Homo sapiens: one gene and its partner. The protein of the gene in region 1 interacts with the protein of each later gene in a pairwise test. Each region holds a gene or a part of one and is shown on either strand. Other genes may lie near its edges.

Evidence for each region.
Region 2: the proteins of TRAPPC8 (region 1) and TMEM132D interact in a two-hybrid assay, tested with the Homo sapiens proteins (one large-scale study listed by BioGRID).

The regions. Positions count from the first base shown.
Region 1 is NC_000018.10:31,873,348-31,877,168, forward strand, and holds part of TRAPPC8 (trafficking protein particle complex subunit 8), read right to left. Parts: intron 1,358-3,821; coding exon 1,133-1,357; intron 192-1,132; coding exon 83-191; intron 1-82. UniProt on the Homo sapiens protein: Plays a role in endoplasmic reticulum to Golgi apparatus trafficking at a very early stage. Maintains together with TBC1D14 the cycling pool of ATG9 required for initiation of autophagy. Involved in collagen secretion.
Region 2 is NC_000012.12:129,074,715-129,078,535, forward strand, and holds part of TMEM132D (transmembrane protein 132D precursor), read right to left. Parts: coding exon 3,820-3,821; intron 362-3,819; exon of another isoform or gene 346-361; coding exon 1-345. UniProt on the Homo sapiens protein: Regulate neuronals morphology via inhibition of the WAVE regulatory complex (WCR), a complex that controls F-actin cytoskeletal dynamics.

The DNA of each region.
Region 1 (3,821 bases):
CATCGTTTTTTAAATGGAGAAAGGAAAAGAAGTTTTTTTTAAATTGTCATTAGGTAATTAGGCTAAATAAAACTTTACTAACCATCCGCTGGTCGTCTGTCATGGCCAAAAAAAACCCGTGTTGCTGAACTGTTAATATACGGTAAAGGAAGCTGTGGCAAAGGACCATCTGGTGACAGCTGACTTACATTCTGAGAGAAATATAAAAGGGAAAAAAAGTAGTTTTTGTGAAAATGGTATTTTTATTTGTTTCCTCGTTTCTTAATACACAAGGCATTAAAAATATGTTAAGCAAGAATATTAAGATATGTAATTACTAGTTTTATTTCTCATATCAGTCATAAAATTTTACAACTCAGAAGCACTTCAGATATTTATTCTGCCTCAAAAGAATCTTACTGAGGTTACTCAGCTAATTACCTGGATGTTAAATATGCAAAACTTATTTTAGTAAGCGTTTTACTTCTTATGACTCATTATAGCATCCTATCTGCCAAAATTCTAACCCATATAATTTCAAATTAATAAAGTCTAGACCCTAAAGGTAGTTATTTTCTGCACGATAGATATAATATGCACTATTCATAGGCCTTGGGAAAAAATTTACAACTTCCCATTTTTTCCATAAAACAATGCTTTATATGTTTATCTGCTTGCCTCAGTGAAACAGTCCTTCTTCCTGTTAATTTTTCTCCATTGCACCATAATAGCCTGTCTACTTTCCACAGATCCATACCCCCTCATCTTTCACAAGGAAAAGAACATAGAATGTCCATCTCCAAAGGATGGTAAAGAGAACCCACTTAAAACCAACTGTAAAATCAGTTGTGAGTCTATAAAAGCATGATGAATAAAGAATCCAGAAAACCTGTGGAATCTTTTTTTTTTTTAAGATTCTAAGAACAGCCACAAATCAAGTGTTCATTGTAATATTAAAATTCTCTTTTCAAGAACTGTGGAAGGGGCAATGTAACCAAGATCTATAGCCAAAAAGCCTAGCCTGCCACAGCTTTTTTATGACTGATAACTACATATATTCTAATAAAACTATCGTAAGATATGGTAATAAATAAATACTTTCACACTAAAATACAGTTTTAATATCTATTCCTGAATGAAAATAAGCAGTCACCTTGTAAACATAAAGATATTCTCTGAGGAAAGCCCCCTGTTGAGCAGCAGATTGTTTACTTTCATTAATTAGAATATGCCTAAAAGCAGACACAGCATTATCCAGCTGTCTAAGAGTATAGGACTGGCGCCCAATAGTGAAATTAATGTGATCCTCTGCAAGAGACCAGCCTTTTCCTTTGTAAACTTGCATGGCTTGACAATAACAGCGTAAAGCATGCTTTTTCTGTAAGAAAATAAACAAAATAATGTATTATACTCCAAATTTGTTTGAACTAGAAAAAACAAATACAAACACACACATAGAAACAATTAAGTAACTGGTTCTTCCTCTAAGGGGGACTGGGATAATGAAGAAAATAAAACTAACATTTATGATAATCCCTTCACAATTATATATGGAATGATATAGATAAAGTTACCTGAGCCATTGTGTGTGTGCGTTAGATAGGAGTAGGGTACCTAAAGGAAGAAAAGGGAGGCCAGACTGCTTTGACATTTACCCACTACTTCTCTGAGCCACAATTTCAAAACGTCAACTTCAGAGGAAAGAGCTTACTTCTCAACTTGACTTTATCTACCTTAAATTCTTTCTGGAAAAAGGCAAGGGATATGTAAACAAACTTCAACATTTAAAATGGTCAGATTTCACTAATATGATGATGAAAAAAATGTTCTCATACTTTAACTAGAAGCATGCTATGTCTACAAAGAGTTTCTCCATATTAAGTAAAACAATAAACACATTTATCAAAGTTTTTTCTTGCCTACGATCAGAGACTTACATTGAATGTATGTGGCCACATATGCCACAGTTTTCCACAGTACAAATAATATATAATAATATATATAGTAGTATATATAATAATATATAAATAAACTTTTTTTTTCTATATTAAAAATTCACATACTGGACCAACCATGCTGATCCCAGCCTGCCTGCCTGCCTGCCTGCCTGCCAGAACTCACTGGCCAGTGTTGTGACCACTGAAAGGTTATGCCTCACACGGTTCAAATAAAGCAGTGGGCTAGGACAGCAGCACAGTAAACACTGCCTGGGCAAGACATGACGGGGTTCTCTGCCAGCATCAGGTGCTACCACAGCCTCCTTTTCAAGGTGCTGTTGGCAAGTGTCAGGGCATACTTCCTGGTATTCAGTGCATTTACTGCAGGACTTAAGAAGAGCAAGAGATTAATAATATACCAGAATGATATACAAGATGTGTGTTCAAAATGGAAAATTGCAAGGAATGCCAAAATCTTACAAGTATTGCAATAAGAATGCAATATTTGTGGCAATAAACATCATCAATGTAAAAAATCAAAAGAGGTACACAGAAAGACAGATCCTGCATGTTCTCACTCATATGTGGGAGCTAAAACAGTGGATTTCATGAAAATAGAGAGTGGACTGGTGGTTACCAAAGGCCAGGGAGAGTGGGTGATAGAGAATGAAGTTGATTAATGGGTACAAATACATGGTTTGATAGAAGAAATAAGACCTAGCGTTAGACAGATCAGCAGGGTGACTATAGTTTACAACCATCTACTCTACATTTCAAAATAGAGAATTTGAATGGTTCTAAGGTGATGGATATCCCAAGTTCACTGACTTGATCTTTATAAATTATATGAATGTATGAAATTATCACGTATTATACCCCAAACTATGTATGTTTATTATGTATCAATTTTTTTAAAAGGAGAGTATTTTCTTCAAGATCGCTTACAGCCGGGAGGGGTGGCTCACGCCTGTAATCCCAGCACTTTGGAAGGCTGAGGCGGGCAGATCATGAGGTCAGGAGATTGAGACCATCCTGGCTATCATGGTGAAACACTGTCTCTACTAAAAATACAAAAAATTAGCCGGGCATGGTGGCGGGCGCCTGAAGTCCCAGCTACTCAGGAGGCTGAGGCAAGAGAATGGCATAAACCTAGGAGGCGGAGCTTACAGTAAGCCAAGATTGTGCCACTGCACTCCAGCCTGGGCTACACTGCGAGACTCCATCTCAAAAAAAAAAAAAAAAAAAAAAAGATCACTTACTAGGGACCTCAGATCCTCAGATGCCAGTTCTCCTCAGAAAGATCAAAGTAACTAATTATCCAAACAGAAAACTGAGAAAAGACAGCCAGGATATGATGAAGAACCCATGGAAAGAAACTAGAGTGCAGGAAAGAAAAACAACAAGAGTTTGGCAGGGATCGAGTGCTGAGGAACACAAAACCCCATGGAAAGGGTAAGTGGGAGTACTTCTCTGCTGCCCTCACCCCTCTGACCATCTGTTCACCATCCAACTGATGGGGAGTCCCTCTGCCCTCATGATGCAGGACAACACTAACAGTGGCAGTTTGAGAACGTCCCAGGGACAAGGATGTGGGTGGCCAGCTCACACAGGCATGCCCGCCCTCCTTTCAGGCCTGAACTGAGACAGGAGATACCACTGCCCTGCCCAGGAAATCTCTGCTCTTGAGTCACCACCGCACCACCAGATCCCTAACATATTCACAACTGCTGTGACATTAGCAAGTTTAGGAGACCAGTGGGTCCCCAGAGAAGGTGTGAGACCCATGGAGATGTAACCGTTAATTTAGGCTGCCCCTAGGGGAAGGGGGGACAGTAGCCTGCCAAAGCCCCACCTTGAGACAAAGGTAATGCAAGCAAGCAACAATCGCTGAAGTGGGCAGCCCCA
Region 2 (3,821 bases), on another chromosome or scaffold:
GTTTTCCATGTGAACCCCTGCCCCTGTGTGTCTGCTGTCACTGGTGTTGGGGTTAGCATCGTTTTGGCCAAATTTAACTTTGATGTTTGCCGTTCCAACAGCTAACACACTCTTCCGCTTGGATTTCTGGCAGGATTCACTAATAACCATTTCCACCTTGACCAGGGTGCCTTGTCCTTCTGTTTCCGCAGCAATGATAGGCCACTTGAATTTGGGGTCTTGGTGGATGGAGACTACCTTCTCATCCAAAGATGTGGCCATCAAGGAGAAGTCTTTCCCATCGTAAATATCCAAGGGCGTGACTGAGCCATCACTGAACTGGACCCAGCAACTGATGGCTGCTTCCTATGGAGAAAAATATGTAAGTTAATCAAATGGGCCAAAAAGCTCATTGAGCCCCAAGTCTTAGTACAGTAGACACACAACGGCAAAACTATTGCTACAAGAACAAAGACAAACCTTTCAAACAGTGTAGAAATAAGCGATAAGAAGTACCAAGAGTATAAAAGAAAATGAATTCTCACAAAGATGCAAAAAAGCAAAATAAAACAACAACAAAATGACAAAACAGGGCCAGTATTAAACAATCCGTAAGAAGATTTGCTTTTTTTTTTTTTCTCCTGTAGGTGTTGTTATAAAAGGAAGATGGGCCCTTGGGCTGTTCAGAATCAACTTCTGAACAATAATAAATTGCACGACAAAGGAAATTACTGGTTAGTGGAATCATTTACAAGTGTTACACATTCAAATGAAAAATATTTATTACATTATTTTTAAGTTGTAATACTGAGTCTCCACTGATTACTGGCAATACAGATAAAAGCCTCTGATCTAGATGAGGTCCCACTGCAGGGCTGCAGGCTGTGGTTTTGCCAGCCCTGCCTTTTCTGGGTCTGCAGGAGTGGATCTGTCCTGGCCTCAGGCCATAGTCTTGGCTTGGAGGGAGGAGTTAAGCCTGACAGCAGGAGAGGGAGAAGCATCTTGATTGGAGAGTCTTCATCTCTTCCTCCACCCAACCCAACTGGAGGAAACTGGAAGACCAAAAAGCAGCCAGAGCTTGTTTTCACTTTGTTGATTTAGACCAACTTTCTTTGCAAATAGTTTGACCAGGCAGATCATTGGAGATAACCTCCAATTTCATGCCAGCCTTTAATTTTAGTGAAGATGACATTATGCTTGACAGCAGTGGCAGATCCATTGCTTCCTCCCTCCCTCCCTCCCTCTCAGAGAACCTGCTCCGCCCCAAGCCCGAGATGATGAACAGCACTAGGTGGCCCATGACCCTGCCCGCTGGGCCACAGCAACAGCTGATTGAAATGAGACAGCTGCTGCCATTAGAGCCATCAATCTCAGCAATGCTGAGCCAGCCAGCATTACTCTCTCTCTCTCGAACTTGAAACCAGAAAGACAAGACTGACAAAGTTATGCTTGGGAAGATGTGTAGTGGGGGCACATATAAAATTGGGGAATGAAGCCCTCTGATGGACTATGTATAAGCAAATGTTTGGGCATGGCATTTATCCATAGGAAGACAATAATGAATTAGACCAAAATAAAAACACAGGTGAGAGAGAGAGTGGGCATGAAAGTGCTGACCTTCCCTTTCCTCCAAGGTCTTGCAGCTGGGTTCTGTGAGATCCCTATAATCCTCATAACACATCCTTTGTTATTTAAGCTTTTGCTTGAGTGGATTTTTTTTTCTCTTATGACCTACTGGCCCCTGACCATGACAGAAGTAATTTTACACAGTTGTTGTTTAGTCTTTGGAAGTAAGAAGAAAGTCTCCTCAAATGTGGCTGGTGGCCTCTGCTCTTTCCTTCAGCTCAGCCAAGAAATACTTATTCTGTTAGACACTGGCTTGGACTACCTGCTAAGCGGATAACCTTGCCAAGGCACAGTGCAAAAGCTACTGGACATGACACTGACTTACCAGGTTCTCTCAATCGGCCATGAAATCTGAGCAGAGCATTCAAACGCACAACGGAGTTCTTGAAACTACCACTGTCAGAGCCAAGTTGCAGGCAGGGAGTAAGAGCCCTGCAAACCAACCATGGAGCAAATCTCAGGGTAGCGTGTTTAGCTCTGCATGTCAGGAACGGATTAGCCTTCTGGCCTTCTTCTAGCTGCATCTTATCCCTTCCTTAACGCCTAGCTGGTGGTCCGCTGATGTTATCACCCACAAAGACAGAGAAAAGCCTCAGGTTATTTCTTCATTGCTATCTGTAACTTGCCTCTCGGCTGGCATCCTTCCTTGAGAAAAGGAGGTTTGCTTTGGCCAAGAATTCGATTCTGTTATTGGGATCAACCACTTTCAAGTGTTTTCTAACCCAAAACTCTGCAAACAAAGACTGTAGTATAAGGACTAGGAGATTAGCTCATGCCTGAGAGGGGAGCATTATGTGACAGGTGCAGGCTGGGAAAATGGGAAGGCTCTTTGTGCCCCTTAGCAAGTCCAGTGTGGCACTCCTGCCTCCTCTGAACATGGCCACAGCCGCAGCTGGTGCATGAAGGCAGGGAAGGCCTGGTACCTCACCCTGCCGAGGAAGAGTGCGCAGAAAAGGCTCCTGATCCAGAAGGGAAGCAGTCAGAACAATGTCCCATATGGGCCGGAGGGATTCCAGCTGCCCCACATGAGGATGATCCCTTTTCATGGGGCAAAAGAACTAATGACCTGCAACCACCATGTTTTGTTATTAAGCAAGCTTCACCCAAATTCCTATGTTCTAAGAAATAATGTTTATCCACCTCTAATGAGGGAGAACTTACTACATTCAAAGGTCCCCTATAACAGTCCCCTTTGTAAGCCATTGTATCCACATACAAACACATGCATCACACACATACACACAACACACATACACATATACATGCACACAGGCACCTATACAACACAAGCATACACACAACAGAAAATACACAAGACACACATGCATACGGACACACATAAAGCAAAAACATATATGACACAGACCCACAACACACACACATATGCACACATACAAACAACAAATAGACACATGCAATGCATACATACAACACACGATACATTCACAACACACATATATACATGCATACAGGTGCCTATACAACACAAGCACACATGCAACACACAACACAAAACAAGCAACACAAAATACTGACACAAGACACACACATGCATACACAGACACACAAAAACAACATATATGTACACAACACATAGACACACAACACACATATACATATGCACACAACACACAAAACACACTCTATTAGCTCACACTGGTTCCAAATAAAGTAAAAGAAAATTGTGACTGACATCTCCATGAATTCTCTGTTTCTGCCTTGAGCTGAACAATGAATGGTCTGGAAGCGATCTCCCGCCACAGGCTCCCCACTCAGCAGGTCTGTCACCCTCCGCTCCAGCAGGACCTTGGCATCAGGCTGTGCACCTGCTCTGAGCCTGCACGTGCCCTCATGCCCTCATGGAAGCAGGAAGCGTGTGGAGAGCACAGGTGACCACCTGCATGCACTTGCACTATGGTGGATGAGGGGTGGGCCTTTCCTCCAGGGCTCCTGCCCCTTAATGGCTTCTCATTTTTCACATGTTGCAATCCTTATGTATATATGTATTTATTTTTTTCATCTCTGCATGGGGGAGCTGGGAAACATGAGGCAGAGGAGTCACCTGCTTCAGAAGAGCCCTTTGCAGATGGAGAAACAAACGCCCGATATATGATCCCACTCTATTGTGCGACCCGCCTGGCGTGGTGCCTGCCTGGTGTGTGATCCACTTGGTGAGGGACCCTGCTGAAGTGTGTCTCAAGCCCTCCTCCATACCT